Homo sapiens: one gene and its partner. The protein of the gene in region 1 purifies or fractionates together with the protein of each later gene. This does not show direct contact. Each region holds a gene or a part of one and is shown on either strand. Other genes may lie near its edges. The genes, in order: PREX2 and GRAMD1A.

What was found.
Region 2: the proteins of PREX2 (region 1) and GRAMD1A purify together in Homo sapiens (affinity purification with mass spectrometry; one large-scale study listed by BioGRID and IntAct). This does not show direct contact.

Annotation. Positions count from the first base shown.
Region 1 is NC_000008.11:68,112,288-68,116,105, forward strand, and holds part of PREX2 (phosphatidylinositol 3,4,5-trisphosphate-dependent Rac exchanger 2 protein), read left to right. Parts: intron 1-3,465; coding exon 3,466-3,645; intron 3,646-3,818. UniProt on the Homo sapiens protein: Functions as a RAC1 guanine nucleotide exchange factor (GEF), activating Rac proteins by exchanging bound GDP for free GTP.
Region 2 is NC_000019.10:35,017,299-35,021,116, forward strand, and holds part of GRAMD1A (protein Aster-A), read left to right. Parts: intron 1-1,892; coding exon 1,893-2,011; intron 2,012-2,092; coding exon 2,093-2,235; intron 2,236-3,818. UniProt on the Homo sapiens protein: Cholesterol transporter that mediates non-vesicular transport of cholesterol from the plasma membrane (PM) to the endoplasmic reticulum (ER).

The DNA of each region.
Region 1 (3,818 bases):
GTAAAAGGAAAAATAATTAATGTCCAAAACCTTTGACAGGGTTTTTAAATAGAGGATTTGTGTATTCTCACAGGGAGGAAAGGGGACTGGTAGACATAGGGGATTTGAGAACAGACTTCATTTTGCAGGTGCCAGACGCCTCAGGATTGAGTGGTGAACAAACCACACTTTAAGACAGTTAGTAACCCGGGGGTTACAGATAGGAATGGTGGTGGTGGTGGTGGTGGTGGTAGAGTAATCACTGAGGTTTCCCCAAGCATTTTGCTACTAAATGTACAACAAGAGGGGCACACCATAAAAGCCAACTTTTTTATAGATGCTTATTTGCCAGGCAAGATTACATTATTATATACATTGGCTTATTTCATTCTCACAGTACTTCTGTGAGTTGAGTTATGAAACACCGGGATGCACCCTACTCCCTCCAGAGTGTGCAAGTTAGATGCAGGGAGAGGAAATCCTGCTTAATTTGCACAGGATATGTATGTAACAATATGTCTTGCCTACCCCACCTCTAAAATGGGGAAAATAATAATACCTACTTCATAAGGTGGTTTTAGAGATTAAATGAATTCATACCTGTTAAGGACTTAGCATCGTGACTGTCATGAAAGCTGAACAGATGTTAGCAATGATGATGATGTTTAAAAACACACAGGTCATTGCAACATACTGTATACAAAAATCTTTCTTATCAATGGCACAAGGAGAAGATTCACCTGGAATTGCATGCTGCTGAAGGTTTTAATTAATGGACCTCTAGTAGGTAACTTAATATTTTATACCAATGAAAGTGAAGGGATTTCTGCAAGCACAAATATTATGGTTTGATGCCTTGTTGCTTTTCAGAATCTAGAAATTTTATGCAAAACATGGTGTTAAAAATACAGTTTTTCTATCATTTGTTTGTAAGCCTAACACTTGTCCCACGGGGTCAATGCAAGCATGATTGCAGCTGTTTTAAATAAAAAGCAAATATCTGAATACAATTCATATAACTTTGAAAAAAATTATGCTTAGCCCCATGACTTCTAATTTAAAAGATACATAAGCACAGAGGCCTCTTGGCAAAATGAGAACTCCTGCATTTTTTCCCTCTTTGGTATTCAGAGTTCATCTGTCTGTGCAGCATGGAGCTTGGATAATTGGAGTTAGTCTAATGTTTTAATCTTTTGGGTGGAGAGGGTGAATAAATAGACAATCTGTCTTACAGGACATAAAAGTATCTTTCCAAAGAGAAAAACTGTGTTTAAAATCATCCATAGCTTTTGGTTATTAAAAATGTTCACAGGGCCTCAAGCAATGTAACATAGCTCCTTCAATTTTTCACTGGTGTCTAAAACCTATAAAATGTCAAAATATTGTTCAAATCTCACCTCGCTGTGAGACCTGACCTGACTGCACCACTGTTTGAAGTGGCAGCTTCACGCTTCCTTCCCTGCTTTCTTTTTCTCCTTACCATTTGCTGCCATTTGATATACTAGAAAGTTTACTTGTTTTTACTTGTCTTCTCTCAGTAGAATTTGAGCTCCAAGAAGGCAGGGGCTTTTGTATTTTGTTTTTGTTGTTGTTGTTGCTTGTTTGGTTGGTTTTTGAGACAGTCTCACTCTGTTGCCCAGGCTGGAGTGCAGTGGTGTGATCTATGCTCACTGCAACCTCCATCTCCAGGGTTCAAGCGATTCTCCTGCCTCAGTCTCCTGAGTAGCTGGGACTACAGGCTTCCACCACCACACCCAGCTAATTTTTGTATTTTTAGTAGAGACGGGATTTCACCATGTTGGCCAGGCTGGTCTCGAACTCCTGACCTCACGTGATCCACCCACCTCGGCCTCCCAAAGCGCTGGGATTACAGGCATGAGCCACCGCGCCCGGCCCTTTTGTGTGTTTTATAAACTACTATATCCACAGCACCAAGAACAGTGCATGGTATAATAAATGTGTTTAGTGAAATCACTTAATAGGTATTTATTCAATGCACAGCATTGGGTTTGACATTATGGAATATGCGTAAGAGGTATAAGATATCGTCACCGTCTTGAAATAACAAACATTACATTGCTATGGAAAAATGAGAATCAAGATATGTGCTACTGATTGGAACTGAAAATCACAGGTATTTAGTAAATGCGAAGATGGCTGCTGGCTTGAGAAGCCCTATATGGGTCCTTTGTTTATACATGGTTTAATTCATTTTGCAAGTTTTTTAGCATGCTCTTTGATAATAAAGTTCAATTCCATTTTTGCCTAATTTTGAGTTAGTTGTAACAGAAACATGCCACAGCCAAATGTTCAAGCCTAGAGTGTTGGAGTCAGCAGCTACTCAAAGTCCTCAGCAGGTTTCACACAGTTCAGTCTGACTGCGGCATTTTAGCCTGGAGCCAGGTGGAGGAGCTCTTTCTGTGGGCAGATTTGGGACATTTCATCCTGGCTGGCTTGCAGATTTACCCCATCCTCACATTGTATGTAACTCTGTTTAGTGTCTTGTAATCCCCAAGGCCAAGACTCCTGTTTGTACGAGCAGGGAGACGGATAGACAATCCAATATTCTCCCTGCCAAATAGGGAATGCCTGGGCAAAACCCAAGGCATAGATAGAGGGTAGGTGGGTTTTTAATACTGAATATGAGCCAGTGAGGACATGAAGGCCCATTTATAGTTTGGGTTTAATATTTGGCTAGCACTTTAAAGATTACTGAGTATTTTCTGTTTTTCTTTTCTTTCTTTTCTTTTCTTTCTTTTTTTTTTTTTTTTTTTTTTTGAGTTGGAGTTTCGCTCTTGTTGCCCAGGCTGGAGTACAATGGCACGATCTCGGCTCACCACAACCTCCGCCTCCTGGGTTCAAGCAATTCTCCTGCCTTAGCCTCCTGAGTAGTTGGGATTACAAGCATGCGCCACCACGCCCGGCTAATTTTGTATTTTTTAGTAGAGACGGGGTTTCTCCAAGTTGGTCAGGCTGGTCTCGAACTTCCGACCTTAGGTGATCCGCCTGCCTTGGCCTCCCAAAGTGCTGGGATTACAGGCATGAGCCACAACACCCGGCTGATTACCGAGTATTTTCATAAGGTGGTGATGGTTGTGCTAATGGCCAGGGGCTAGAGGTGACACCCATTATGCACCAGGAATATTCATTCTCACAGCAGTCATGGAAGCCAGTTATTCTCATTATCTCCATTTCACAAGTGTCAAACAAAACTATCACAGCTTTGTTTTAGCTATAGTCATACATGGCACAACCTGTATTTCAATGAAGCTTTCTGGTCTAAATTGTATGTTGTTTGTATGACTTATTTTGTGAAGAACAAGAGAACTTTGAATGACATGCTTTTTATGCAATAGAATATTTACTTGATATGAAACATTGAAGCACTCTAGAAATATTTGTAAGCCTATTGTATTCAGCAAATAAGGTAGTTATATATAGCAGACAGTTTGAAAATGTGCATTTTTTTTTAATATTACATTGCAGCCTTCTGTCTTCAATAACATATTCTCCTAAATTAGAACGTAAGACATCAGAGGGCATAATACCAACAGACAGTGACAATGAGAAGGGAGAAAGAAACAGCAAACGGGTATGTTTTAATGTAGCAGGAGATGAACAGGAAGATTCTGGTCATGACACCATCAGCAACAGAGACTCTTACAGGTAATTCACTAATTCCTCAAACTCATTTTCTTAACAAAGTCAAATATGATGCTGGATTTTCCACAAAGATCTTGAAAAAAGTTTTTGATTGTTTTTCTTTTAATTGGTCTTTCACAATAATCACCTGTTACTACCGACCTCAGACAAAGCATAGTGGGACAATGTAATATTTC
Region 2 (3,818 bases), on another chromosome or scaffold:
ATTTATAGTAATGTAAGAATGGCCTAATACAGAGCTCCTCAGCCTGACACGCCAGCCCTTTTAGGACATAAGCATAGTTTTGGGGGCCTTGTAGCCCCCCAACACAAGGCACCATCTTCCTGACTGCAGGGGATACTGCATGTCTCATCAATACAGAAAAAGAAACAAAGAGAAACTCCCATCTGACACGCTCCTCCCCTGCTTGAATCTCTTTTGTAGCCTCCCAAGTTCCTTGGCTGGTCCCATGTCAACCCTTCAGCCTCACCCAGAGCTGTGGCTGCCCCTCTCCATACCTGGCTGCCCCATCCCAGCCTCAGGGGACTTCTCTCAATATTGGCCTCCAGCCTCAGGGCCTTTACTGGTATCACGCGGCCTCCTGGGCTCCTCTGCCCCGACCCCTTCCTTCCTCAGTTCCTCCTTCAGGCCTTGGTTTTGATTTCACATCCTCCTGGCAGCCTTCCCTTACCTTCCTCAGATCCCAGATACCCCCAGATACTCACAGCTTCTGCCCTTAACTCACACCATGCCAGTAGTGTGTGGTTTTTATTTATAGATATTTCCTGTTGTTCTCAAGAGATTCTGGGTGCTAAGGACAGGAGTTCATCTATCCTGGTCTCCCACTGGCCTCCAAGCCCTGCATAGGCCTGACAGAGTGGACATTAAATTTGTGATCATTAACACATATTTATTTATTTATTTATTTATTTTTGAGTCAGGTTCTTGCTGTCGCCCCAGCTGGAATGCAGTGGCACAGTCTTGAGTCACTGTAGCCTCTGCCTTCTGGGTTTAAGCCATTCTCCTGCCTCAGCCTCCTGAGTAGCCGGGATTATAGGCGCCCACCGTCACGCCCAGCTAATTTTTGTATTTTTAGTAGAGACGGGGTTTCACCGTGTTGGCCAGGCTGGTTTCAAACTCTTGACCTCAGGTGATCCTCCTGCCTCGGCCTCCCAAATTTCCCGAAGTGCTGGGATTACAGGCGTGAGCCACTGTGCCCGGCTGCCTCAGGGAGCTTTTGATCATGCTGAAAGGCAAAGGGGGAGCAAGTGAGAGAGAGTGGAGGGGAGGTGCCACACACTTAAATGACCAGATCTCGGAAGAACTCACTATCATGAAGACAGCAGCAAACCATGAGGGATCCGCCCCCATGATCCAAACACCTCTCACCAGGCCCTACCTCCGGCATTGGGGATTACAATTCAACATGAGATTTGGGTGGGGACAAATATCCAAACTATACCAAACTCAGACTCTGTTCTAGGGGTACTGGGGAGCCATGGAGTGTTCTAGGCAGAGAAGGGATAGAGTCAGGCTTGGCTTTAACAAGATGCCCCTGGACCAGATGGGGAGACTGAGGCCAGACACTCAAGGGAAGGCTGGCAGGGGCACTGGGCAGGCAAAGATGGGCTGAACCAGGAGTGACGCTCAGGAGGTTTGGTGAACACACAGTGTAGGTAACCATCTAGGGGTTTGAGTAGGGGGTGTCCAGGGCAAGGCCTACCGCTCCAGTGGGAGCCTGGAGGACCCTGGGCCACCCCTGAGTGGGGGCCTGGGAGATGCAGCAGGTTTGGGGAGATGCTGAGGCTGTGTGGAGCTCGGTGGGTTCGAGGGGTCCAGGGACCTTCCAGGGGAAGGTGTTCAAAAGATTACAGGTCCAATGCTCAGGGCAGAAGCCAAGACGGGTGCAGAGGGGGAAACTGAGGCTGCAGCAGTGGAGGAGATGGCCCTGCCCCAACAGCTAAGGTTTTAGGCTCCTGGAAGGAAGGTGGGGACACAGAGGAGTGGTGGGGATTGGGACAGGTCCCCAGAGAGACCTCCCAGAAGGCTGAGTCTCCTGTGGCCTGTGGGCAAAGGACTGGGGTGTGGCCTCCTCATGCTGCTCCTCCCTCCTCTAGACGTGACGCTGAGCCCCTGGAGTGGGGACAGCAAGTGCCACCAGCGCCGGGTGCTGACGTACACCATCCCCATCAGCAACCCACTGGGCCCCAAGAGCGCCTCCGTGGTGGAGACACAGGTGGGCCAGGTGGGGCAGCCGAGTGGGTGGGGCAGCTGGGTGAGTGGGGTGGCCCTGACTTCTCCGGCTCTGTCCCTGCAGACGCTGTTCCGGCGCGGCCCCCAGGCCGGCGGGTGTGTGGTGGACTCCGAGGTGCTGACGCAGGGCATCCCCTACCAGGACTACTTCTACACTGCCCACCGCTACTGCATCCTGGGTCTGGCCCGGAACAAGGCGCGGCTCCGGTGAGTGGTGGCTGGGCCCCTCCACCCGATGCCCTGGTGGCCCCAGGGCCTCCTGTCCACTCCTCAAGTCAGCAGCAGAGCCTTGGTTCCCACCCTGGTGGAGGAACAGAAGCGTGGGGTTCCTGAGGCCCTTGTCCTCCGAATAGTGGAGGGTAGAGGAAGAGTGGCCCTGGGATGGCTCCTCCCATCTACAGAGGGTGTTTGAGCCTCAAGACTCTGAGGATACAGCAAAGCCAGGCAATATCACCTCTCTCAGGGAGCTCATATTCTAGTGGGGAATTGGACAATAGAGAAATGATCAGGAAAATCTGCAGAACATTCACTGGCAGTTAGGCCTATGGAGAAAAATGAGGAAAACACGGCAGGCTAAAGAAGCAGGGTGTGGAGGCTTTTACACCCGACACGCTGGTCAGGGAAGGGCCTACTGGGAAAGAAATGTTTCACCAAGAACCTGAAGGAGCTGAGAGCAACTCATTTGGGACAGCAGGTGCAAAGGCCCTGAGGCAGGGGTGTGGGCAATGGCTGGAGTGGAGTAAGATTGAGTGAGTAGGAGCTGAGATTAAAGTGGTGAACCGGGGCCCGGCACAGTGGCTCACACCTGTAATCCCAGCACTTTGGGAGGCTGAGGCAGGAGTATCACTTGAGCCCAGGAGTTCAAGAGTAGCCTGGGTAACGTACGGAAGCCCTGTCTCTACAAAAACAATTTTTTTTAAATTAGCCAGGGTCCAGGTGCAGTGGCTTACGCCTGTAATCCCAGCAATTTGGGAGGCTGAGGTGGGCGGATCACTTGAGGTCAGGGGTTCGAGACCAGCCTGGCCAACATGGTGAAACCCATCTCTACTAAAAATACAAAAATTAGTCGGGGGTAGTGATGCACGTCTGTAATCCCTACTACTTGGGAGGCTAAGGCACAAGAATCACTTGAACCTAGGAGGTGGAGGTTGCAGTGAGCCGAGATCGGGCCACTGCACTTCAGCCTGGGTGACAGAGTGAAACTCTGTCTCAAACAAACAAACAAACAAACAAAAAACAAGTTAAAAAATTAGCCAGACATGGTGGAGATTTCAGTGAGCCATGATCACACCGTTGCACTTCAGCCTGGGCGACAGAGCAAGACCCTGTCTCAAAAAAAAAAAAAAAAAAAAAAAGGTGAACCAGATGTGGCTCATGGTGAAGACTTGACTTTACCTGGAGTGAGGTGCAACCAGGCCAGGGCTCTGAGCCAGGAGGGCGCTGACCTGACTCAGGTGGTCCCAGGCTCCTTCTGGCTCCCTCTGTTCTGGTGGGAACAGACTGCAAAGACAGGTACAGGAGCAGGGAGGCCAGGGAGGAGGCTGCTGGGACATCCAGGCTGGAGGGGACGGAGGCTGAATCAGGGTGAGGAAATGGAGGGGGAAGAGTTTAGATTCTGGAGAGATTTTGCAGGTTTAGCTGACAGGATTTGCTGAGAGATTGGATGTGGCGGTGAGGGAAAGAGAGCTCAAGGAATATCCCGAGGCATTTGGCCCAAATCACTACAACTTCGGAGCTGCCCTTGACCCAGATGGGGGCGGCAGGGAGGAATGGGTTTGGGGAAAGACCAG